2 separate regions of the Homo sapiens genome follow, and region 2 is reported to be linked to region 1. The links are microRNA targets in miRTarBase. Many come from high-throughput screens and were not tested one by one. Region 1 holds a microRNA gene; the other region holds the end of a gene's coding sequence.
The links. The annotated mature microRNA hsa-miR-570-3p reads CGAAAACAGCAAUUACCUUUGC and lies in region 1 at 2,648-2,669, shown strand. An mRNA with a match to its seed (bases 2 to 7 or 8) in the 3' UTR can be bound and repressed. Matches are read on the target gene's strand: a 7mer-m8 pairs with bases 2 to 8, a 7mer-A1 pairs with bases 2 to 7 and ends in A, and an 8mer does both.

Region 1 (5,072 bases):
GCACATCCCACTGCCTGGGTATCTGGCCCCCAACCGGCCTGCCCGCTGCTCCCACCTCCCATGGTGGGTCGGGGGCTGAGGGCTGGGGACTGGGGCAGGGTACCCCAAATATCTCTCGGTGGCGATCGCTCAGTCCGTGCAGTCCATCCAGCTCCTGCATTGTCCGTCCTACCAATAACCTCTCACTTGCAATTCTCAGCCCCTTCCTGCATTGTCTCCCTGTGAGACCTACTAGAACCCCCGCCTTTCACACTGCTGACCTGCTGGGGGAAAATGCACAGAGGCAGAGACGAGGCCACGCGGGAGTCCTGATCTCTAACCCCAGCCGGTCTCAGGCCTTGCCGAGGCAACGCTGCTTCCCCAGACACTCTCCCTTTCCCATTCTTTTTTTTTTTTTTTTTTGAGTTGGAGTCTCGCTTTGCCACCCAGTCTGGAGTGCAGCGGCGCGATCTCAGCTCACTGCACCCTCCACCTCCTGGGTTCAAGCGATTCTCCTGCCTCAGCCTCCCAAGTAGCTGGGATTACAGGCACACACCACCATGCCTGGCTAATTTTTGTATTTTTAGTAGAGATGGGGTTACACCATGTTGGCCAGGCTGGTCTCAAATGCCCGACTTCAGGTGATCCACCCGCCTCGAGCTCCCAAAGTGCTGGGATTACAGGCGTGAGCCATCGCGCCTGCCTTTACTTTCCCATTCTTAACGCCTCCCGTTTCAGACCTGTCCCCTTTTCCCCGCATTTCTGACTGTCACGGCACATCACAACCAGCAGACAGGGCTTCCCCTATTTCACAGGAGAAATAGAAGCCATCAGATGGGACCTCCTTCAAAGTCCTGCCACCAAACCTCAGCATGTACCTGGACCCACATGTATCCTCTTTTCCTTTGGGATTGAATTAGAGAGGTGCCGCTCGAAACCCGCTCCTGGGTGGGAGTCTTGGCTCTATCAGTTATGCCTCTATTCTGTATGTTTAACCTCGCCCTCGTAGGGGCATAAAACAGCATTTAAACAGGATCAAGCTTTCCATTTTAAAACTCCATACACTCCCTTAATTTCATCTCCTCCTCCACCTACTGCCCCATGTCTCTCCCTCTTCCTGGCTAAACGTCTCAAAAAAGTGGATACACTTTCTGTCAACTCCTAAACACTCCTCACGCTCATTTGGCCTCTGCTCCTCCCTTCCTCCTCCCACTTCATTGGAACTACTTCTGCCAAAGAGGATCCCTGAGTCAGCCTGACTGGTAACCCCAATGGACTCTACTCAATATGCAACATCCTTCACTTCTTAGCAGAGTTTGAAACAGCCTGACTCTCCTCTTCTGGCAACATTCTTTTCCTTGGTTTGGGGACGCTGTACTGTTCTGGTTTTGCCCCTCCCTCCGAGCATTCCTTGTGTTTGTCCTGGCCCATTTTCTCCTCTCATTCTACATCCTCTCCCCGGGGATTTTAGCTTCTCTCACGGCTCAGGTTACCATCTCCATAGTGATGACTATCAAATTCTGTACCTCATTTCCAGAGGCTCCTGACAGACTTGCTTGGTCAATATACTACTGGACATATTCATGAGACTGTCTCACACAGGCATCTCGAACCCAGTGTGTCCCACAATTCTCTTCCTATCCATGCCTGTTCCTCTTCCACTGCCTCATATGTCGGTGACTGTCCACCTTCTCTCTCTCTCCCCCTCTCCGTTTGGCTCATAGGAAAAGTGTCACCAAGGGCTGTAAGTGCAGATTTCTAATTATCCCCTAAATTTGAACATTTTTCCTCTCGAAAGTGTATGGCCATTACCCTATTACAGATCAACATCTTCAATCACTGGAATGATGGCAATAATCTAATTGGGTTCATTTTATCCTCTATCTAACAATGACAACTCATTGCCTACACAGCAGGTAGAAGGAGTTTGTTTTCAGAATTGCCCTCTGACCTATTTAAGACGCTCAGATATTCCCTGAGGCTCCTTGGCCTGGCCACAAAGGCCCTACACATTCTGGCTGCTTCCTCCTTTCCAGCATCCTCTCTCACGTCTCCTCTCCTCAGTTCCACCCTCAGGAGGCACCAGAATTCCTCACTTCTTTGACTACAAGGCACCGTCTTACTCCCAAGACCAGTGAATCCGAAGGTGGACCACCAGCTGAGGGACTAGATTCCAGACTGAATAGAACAACTTTCCCTGTCTCTCCACATAAAGTGTGTTTGTTTTTCCTCTTACAGGTTTCCTTAATGACAACAAAAAAGGGAGTAATCCTACCCACTGTAAGAGTCATGACTCTTGATTGCAGCTGACAGAAACTCATGACAGCCTGCTTTAGATGAAGGGGGAGAGAAGGACTGGAAGAATCTTGGAGTTGGGAATGTCACACGTAATTGAAGGAAGAACAAGAAAACTATAGTAAAGAACCCTGGGGTGGTGATGTAGTCATGGGCCAAGTGTCCTGGAACCCTGGGGTGGTGATGTAGTTGTGGGCCAAGTGTCCTGGAACCCTGGGGTGGTGATGTAGTCATGGGCCAAGTGTCCTGGAACCCTGGGGTGGTGATGTAGTTGTGGGCCAAGTGTCCTGGGTTTTGGGTGGAGAAAGAGTCCCCTAGATAAGTTATTAGGTGGGTGCAAAGGTAATTGCAGTTTTTCCCATTATTTTAATTGCGAAAACAGCAATTACCTTTGCACCAACCTGATGGAGTCCCCCTTGCCATGCTTCTCTCTGTGAAAAACCCCAAGCCGAAGTCAGCATAACATCCACAGGACTCTATGTTTGCAAAAGCCAGCTTAGCTATATTACATGTATAAGCACATTTTTTCAATAAGTCAGCCTTAGCTTACTGTAACTTTTTAACTTTATAAACTTAGTATTTTAACTTTTTAAACTTTTTTGTTGAAAACTAAGACACAAAAACACATGTTAGCCTAGATCCACACAGGGTCAGGGTCATCAGTATCACTGTCTTCCACCTCCACATTTTGTCTCTCTGGAAGGTCTTCAGGGGCAATAACACACATGGAGCTGTCATCGCCTGTGGTAACAATGCCTTCTACAGTACTTCCCAAAGGGCCTGCTAGTTCACTTAATTCTTTTATAGAGAGAAGGAGTACACTCTAAAACACTGATCAATAGTATATTATAGTAAATACATAAACCAGGAACACATTTATTATCATTATCACGTATTGTGTATTGTACAGAATGGTGTGTGCTGTGCTATCCAGGAACACATTTATTATCATTATCAAGTATTGTGTACTGTACAGAATGGTGTGCGCTGTGCTTTTATGCAAGTGGCAGCACAGTAGCTTTACACGAGCATCACTAGACACATGAGTAGCATTGCACTCGGCAACAGGAATTTTTTCAGGCCCATTATTATAATCTTATGGGACCGCATCCTATATGCAGTTTGTCATTGACCAAAATGTCCTTATGCGATGCATGACTATATTTGCAAAGGACTAGTATCTAGAATACATTTAAAAGTCTTAAAATAGTAACAAAACAAAGAATGCAATTAGAACATGAGCAAAAGATACAAAGCAACATTTCACTGGAGAAGATATACAGATTGCAAATAAGCACATGAAAAGATGTTTGATACCATTAGGGAAACGCTTCTTTAAACCAGGAGATATCACCACGTGTTAGAATCAACAAAATAAGGCCAGGCATGGTGGCTCACACCTGTAATCCCAACACTTTGGGAGGCTGGGGCAGGCAGATCACATGAGATCAGGAATTCAAGACCAACCTGGCCAACATGGCAAAACCCTGTCTCTGCTGAAAACACAAAAATTAGCCAGGTGTGGTGGCACACGCCTGTAGTCCTAGCACCTTGGGAGGCTGAGGCAAGATAATTGCTTAAACCCAGGAGACGGAGGTTGCAGTAAGCTGAGATCATGCCACTGCGCTCCAGCCTGGGCGACAGAGCAAGATTATGTCTCAAAAAAAAAAAAAAAAAAAAGAATCACCAAAATAAAAAATAGTAACAATACTATTGTCAAGGATGCAAAGGAACTGTACCACTCAATCACTGCTGTGAGAATTTAAAGTGGTGCAGCCACTCTGGGAAACAGCTTGGCTGTTTTTTTTTATGACTGAATGTGCAACTACTATATGATGCAGTAATTTCATTTTTGCACATTTATCCCGGAGAAATGAAAACATATATTCACACAAAACCTGTATATGAATGCTAATAAAAGTCAATTGGCCAGGTGTGGTGGCTCATGCCTGTAATCCCAGCACTTTGGGAGGCTGAGGCAGTGGATCACCTGAGGTCAGGAGTTTGAGACCAGCCTGGCCAACGTGGTGAAAACTCGTCTCTACTAAAAATACAGCAATTAGCTGGGTGTAATAGTAGCCACCTGTAATCCCAGCTACTGGGGAGGCTGAAGCAGAAGAACCTCTTGAACCCGGGAGGCAGAGGTTGCAGTGAGCTGAGATCGTACCACTGCACTCCAGCCTGGGCGATAGAGTGAGACTCTGTCTCAAAAAATAAAATAAAATAAATAAAAAGATTAGATAATCTGCAAAGTTCCTGTGAGCGCTGTCATTTTGTCACTCTGGTTTTTCAGATTCTTCCCCTGGAGGCTGGAGTTTCCAGGATGTCAAAATTACCTCTGCTTGGGTGAGCTATTTCAAGCAGCTGGGATACCTGTGTCACTCCTGCTGTCTGCCAGTGACTGCCCAGGTGTCTGCTGGTTCCTCCCCAGGAGTAGGGAGGAACCAGGTGGGCTGGCTGGGATGGGTGGATATTTAAAGACCAGGCCTTGGACGCTGCAGCACTTCTATCTCTGCTTGATGCCTGCTGCCACGTGGCTGGTCCTCCTCCTCCTGCTGTGGCTGAGCCTTGGGGTGAAGACAGGTGAGGAGCTAGGCTGGCATCTGTGCTACAGGTCAAAGAGACCCCAATCTCTGCTCTCTCATTCATTCAATCAATTAATCTGTTTTGTCTCTGGCATGACCCACCTCCTGTGACCCAGCATTCATTAATTCATTAATCAAATAATTCATGTATTCAGACACTTATTAAGTACCGACTATATGGTTGATGTGGCTTCTTTGTGTATCCAGTTTTAT
Region 2 (5,072 bases), not on the chromosome of region 1:
CCACCCTGCTAAAGGGCAGGCCAATGCCACCGTGTCTGTACCTCTCCACCACTTCTTCCTGACCCAATTGAATTGGACCAAGACTCAATCCAACACTAAACTGGGCCAATCAGCTTCATTCCTGAAGATCTGGGAGTGGGGCACTGAGCAGCTGAGTCAGGTATGTTTGCAGAGCTGGGTTATGAGGCTATGGAAGCTCTGTGCATGATTATGCATACACAGCAGCCACAAGGAAACAGATGGAAGCTAGACTCATTTCTGCCAGAAAAGGGAAGAAACAAGAGCCACAGATTCAGAGGGGCAGCTGTCTTGGGCCCCAGTGGTTTCCCAGATCCCTGTTCCTCTGAATGACACCAGGCTGTACTTTATTCCTATGCAATCTCTCTAAACTGTCAGAGTGAACCATCAGCCCATCAACCAAAGCTGCACTGCAGATGCATTTTATTGAGCTCACACATCATTTGAACATTTTTGATCCAATATACTAATATTTGGAGATTTCACAGAAAAACCTAGACTCCTCTTTTGAACATTGTAAGATCTGGTCACACTGGACCCATGGTGGAACAACATCAGCTGGAAGGGAGTTGCAGCCCCCCCCTGCAGACAGGGCTGGTGTTTCTCTTGTCCTTACACCTTTTCCATTTCACTGATTTACATGCCCTGAATTTCCCCTGTAGGAAATTAACTACCGATCCCAGTCTTATAATAAAGCTCTGTTCCTTAATTTTAATTATCCTGAGTAGAATTTCTGTTCCTGGCCACGAAAACAGTGCTGATGAGAGCTCTGTGGCCTACACATCCACGGCAGGCTCCTTGCAACCATCGCCCATCCAACAGCCATTGCTATCCTTCTTCTGTGCTAACAGAATCCCAATTTTGTGTTCAGGAGGCTGTGGGTATCCCTTGGTGCTCGTAGGCCCTTCCTTCCAGCCCTACAGCAGGACTCATGCTGGGATGGGCATGACACCCAGGTCTGATCAATGAGAAGCAATGGTAAATCTGCCAGGGGACTTCCTTTTCTAACCAAAACCAACAGACTCTTCTGAAAGAAAACCTTTTATGACTGCTCCTTTCCCATTCTACCTTCTTTGAAAAGAAATATGATGTCCAGCACAGGGGCAGCCATTTTGTGACCATGAGGTTTCAAGCACAGGGTCAGATGGCCAACATGCAGAGGATGGTGAAAAGAAAAGGCAAAAAGAAGCTGGGTTCTTGATAACATTGTTGAGCGTTGAACCTTCTCTGATCTCTGCCTGGTTTTGGTTCTAATGGTTTAAGCCACTATTGACTGAGATTACTGTTCTTAGGTTGGTGCAAAAGTAATTGCATTTGGGAGGCCAAGGTGGGCGGATCACTTGAGGTCAGGAGTTTGAGACCAGCCTGACCAACATGGTGAAACCTTGTCTATACTAAAAATACAAAAATTAGCCAAGCATCAAGGCGGGCACCTGTAATCCCAGCTACTCAGGAGGCTGAGGAGGGAGAATCGCTTGAACCTGGGAGACAGAGTTGCAGTGAGCTGAGACTTCATCTCAAAAAAAAAAAAAAAGTAATTGCAGTTTTTGCCATTGAAAATAATGGCAGGGGAGACTCTTGATCTTATCATTCAAGGCTTTCTGTTGCTCAATGTTATATTAAAAACAATGAATTTCCATACTAATTTCAAAGTCAATTCCTAAGATACTGTTTCATCCCATTGTGAACACCACCAAGGTCAGTTATATGTTTTTCAGAATACTTGAAGTACGAGAAAAACAGAAATATATAGCTCTGGCTACATTAAATATCTTTTGCCACTTTCTGAGATCTTTCGTAACTCTAAGAGAAACATGGCATTTCCATTAACGAAAATAGGAGCTTTTTGAATAGGATTGTTCAAAATTAGATACAAATGTTCTCAGCTAAAGGTCTCACATATTCAGAAGTTTGGGTGCCTTTTGTGATAGCTCTTGTATCATTTGATAATATTGATTTTTTTGAAAAAGGCAGGCTATTTACAAGGCAAAGAGTTTTTGTTTTGTTTTGTTTTGTTTTTGAGATGGAGTCTTGCTCTGTCGCCCAGGCTGGAGTGCAGTGGCGCGATCTCGGCTCACTGCAAGCTCTGCCTCCTGGGTTCACGCCATTCTCCGGCCTCAGCCTCCTGAGTAGCTGGGACTACAGGCACCCGCCACCACACCTGGCTAATTTTTTTTTGTATTTTTAGTAGAGACGGGGTTTCACCATGTTAGCCAGGATGGTCTCGATCTCCTGACCTTGTGATCCGCCCGCCTCGGCCTCCAAAAGTGCTGGGATTATAGGCATGAGCCACCATACCCAGCAGGAGTTTTTAACTTTCACTTTCTCAAGTAGAGAAGGCCCTCAACTGTAAACCCCTTTACCCTAGTCTCTGGGAAATATTCCTGCCCACCAAGCACTCTATCCCCCCCAGCCCCCAGCTCCACTGGGTTATTCTAGGGTGAGGGAGCGGACATGATCATCCAGTAGCGTCTGACCAGCCGGAAGGCAAAAGAGACAAGCAAAAGTTCTGTGTTACCCAGGAGAGCTCAGCTGTCCAGAAATAATTAGAGCTACAGCCACACGTGGTTCAAGGAAATGTGGTTGTCAGAGAGAGACAGAGATCTGCCAAGCCATCTCCTCTTCAACTGCCTGGGCGGAGGGGGCTGCAGCCCACATTTTAGAGACACAGTATTGTTTGCAGTTGATTTAGAACTTGAGCTGGAAGAAGTCCCCCATCATGACCTGCACACCATTAGAAGAAAGTGTTGTCTCCAACAAGCTCAGCCACAATGTTGGCTGCCAACGGTATGTCTTTCCCCACTCATTGGAAAGGAGATTATCACACTAAAGCATTGAGATGAATTCCGATGAACAAAGGTAGTCAGACCGTTAGGCTGGACTGTCACTAGGACATGATGACAATGAATAAACTTAGGCTCTTGCAATGTCCATCACTGACATGTTTTAATAAGAGTTGAACGCACAAATTGGCTTCCTTGCAATGTTTACTTCAAGCAGTAGGTCTGTCTGCTCTGGCCTTTGATGGGATCTGCCAGCTTCCTCCCTCCTTGTCTATGTCCCCTGCCTTCACCATGGGAAAAAAGGCTCCAGTAAACCAAATCCCAGAAGTGATGTTGCCTGCGGAGACCAACTCAAAACCAACTGGCCTCCCACTGCTTCCTTTGAAAACATATACATTTCACACACCTGAGTCCTCCCACCCCTCTCCACTCCACGGCAGGCTCCATGAATGGAACTCCAGGGGCTGCCTTTGTGTAATGATCAAGACGTCCCTGGACAGAGGAGCAGCTTCGCATCAGGGAATCCTGGTCCCCTGATCCCCATGGGATGAGATGGTGGGTGTAGCATCCTTCTGGTTTCTCTGCCCATTCAGCTGTCTACCCATGCACAAAACCCAAAGCCCTGGATTTTGGATTTTGTACCTGCAAACCTGAGTAAACTTTTTCCCCTCAAGAGTCATCATTCAGGCCGGGTGCAGTGGCTCCCACCTGTAATCTCAGCACTGTGGGAGGCCGAGGCGGGTGGATCACTTGAGGTCAGGAGTTCGAGACCAGCCTGGCCAACATGGTGAAACCCTGTCTCTACTAAAAAGTACAGGTGGGCACCTGTAATCCCAGCTACTCGGGAGGCTGAGACAGGAGAATTGCTTGAACCCGGGAGGCAGAGTTGCAGTGAGCCGAGATCACGCTACTGCACTCCAGCCTGGGCGACAGATCAAGACTCCGTCTCAAAAAACAATAAAAGTCACCATTCAGCCTGACCAAGGAGGGGGCCAGGAAAGAAGTCGGAACCGTGGCCTTCGCTGCTTCAGAAGGGGAGGCCCGTGCTCTGACTTCAGCTTGATTCACTTTGGCCTCAGTCCTCAGTTCCCAGGGGGTAACGGCGTTCTGAGGTTGTCACCTGGTGCAAGACCAGCTGTCCCCAGGGACACATCTGGATCTCTTGGTGCCAACAACGGCAACTCCAGAGGGGGCTGGGTGGGGGCATGTGGCTCCAGTTTGAATGCACCATGTCCATCTGCCAGAGAATCCACTGGTCAGGCTCTAGGGAGGCAAACCGGGGGGCCCCTGCCAGGAAATAGCTGCTCAGACCACACCTAGATCGCCTGCAATTTCAAAGAAGAAAGCCTGGGGCTGTGAGTGTGGGAGAAACCTACTGAACAGGTCCGGTGGGTGGACAGCAGGTGTCACATGGGCCTGAGCCTGGACGGTATCTACAGAGAGATATTTTGGTTGTTCACTGAGGGTTTGGCCGGGTGACTCTGGGTGGTGTCTGATTGGTTGCTGGCATTACCAGACCCTCCTAATATGGGTAGTCTTCCCATGTAGATCCACAGGTTATGAACAAAGCTTTCACCACATATACAGAGAACCCCCTAGAGCAAACATCTCCCCATCCCTGGGTGGACCTCAATGAAGATGAGCAAACTGAGTCAAGACACAAAACCCTGTTGGTCCAGGTCATACTCTTGGGTGAGTTCTTGATGTCGGCAGTGACAATCAGTGCCCCAGTTGGGGCCTGCCAGCCCCCCAAGCTCTGCAGCCTCAAAGACCAGCTCAGTCCCCCATCGGTCACTATTCCTGAGAGCCAGAGTTCGACCTGGTAACACCTGCACCGTGCATTCCTCGGCCGACCATCTCCTGGCCCCACTCCCGGTGGCTGGACTCCTGCAGTCCTCGGCCTTTGGTCTCAATGGGCAAAAAGCAGGAGGCCAGGGCAGCCAGGAGGCAGCAGCCACTGTAAACTGCCAGAGTCAGGTACACAGAGGATTCCAGCATCACCTAGGGGAAGGAGACACGGGTCGGTGAAAGCATCCCTTCTGAAGCACAGACATCGCCAACCATCAAATAGTATTAGTAACATCAGGCCCTCTCGTGATATCTGCTTGCTAAAAAGGATCTGGTGATTCCCTCCTCTCCCCCTTTGTCCCTCTCTCTCCTTGTGACACGCCTGCCCCTCCTTTGCCTTCCTCCATGAGTAAAAGCTTCCTGAGGCCTCACCAGAAGCCAAGCAGATGCTGGTGCCATGCTTGTACAGCCTGCAGAATCGTG

Region 2: miRTarBase lists SVOP as a target of hsa-miR-570-3p. Seed matches in the 3' UTR shown: 8mer at 3,184-3,191 and 7mer-m8 at 766-772.

Annotation. Positions count from the first base shown.
Region 1 is chr3:195,696,813-195,701,884 of GRCh38, forward strand. It overlaps MIR570 (microRNA 570), which reads left to right and starts at 2,589; the gene lies at 2,589-2,685. All of the region lies in intron 2 of MIR570HG (MIR570 host gene), which reads left to right. It overlaps LOC124909477 (a long non-coding RNA gene), which reads left to right. Exons shown (of 2, transcript XR_007096227.1): 2 at 2,218-2,258. It also overlaps the pseudogene SMBD1P.
Region 2 is chr12:108,907,940-108,913,011 of GRCh38, forward strand. SVOP (SV2 related protein) reads right to left here. Exons shown (of 16, transcript NM_018711.5): 16 at 1-4,802. The coding sequence ends at 4,596. Among named protein-coding and RNA genes, the nearest start is that of DAO, 30 kb to the left of the region's middle.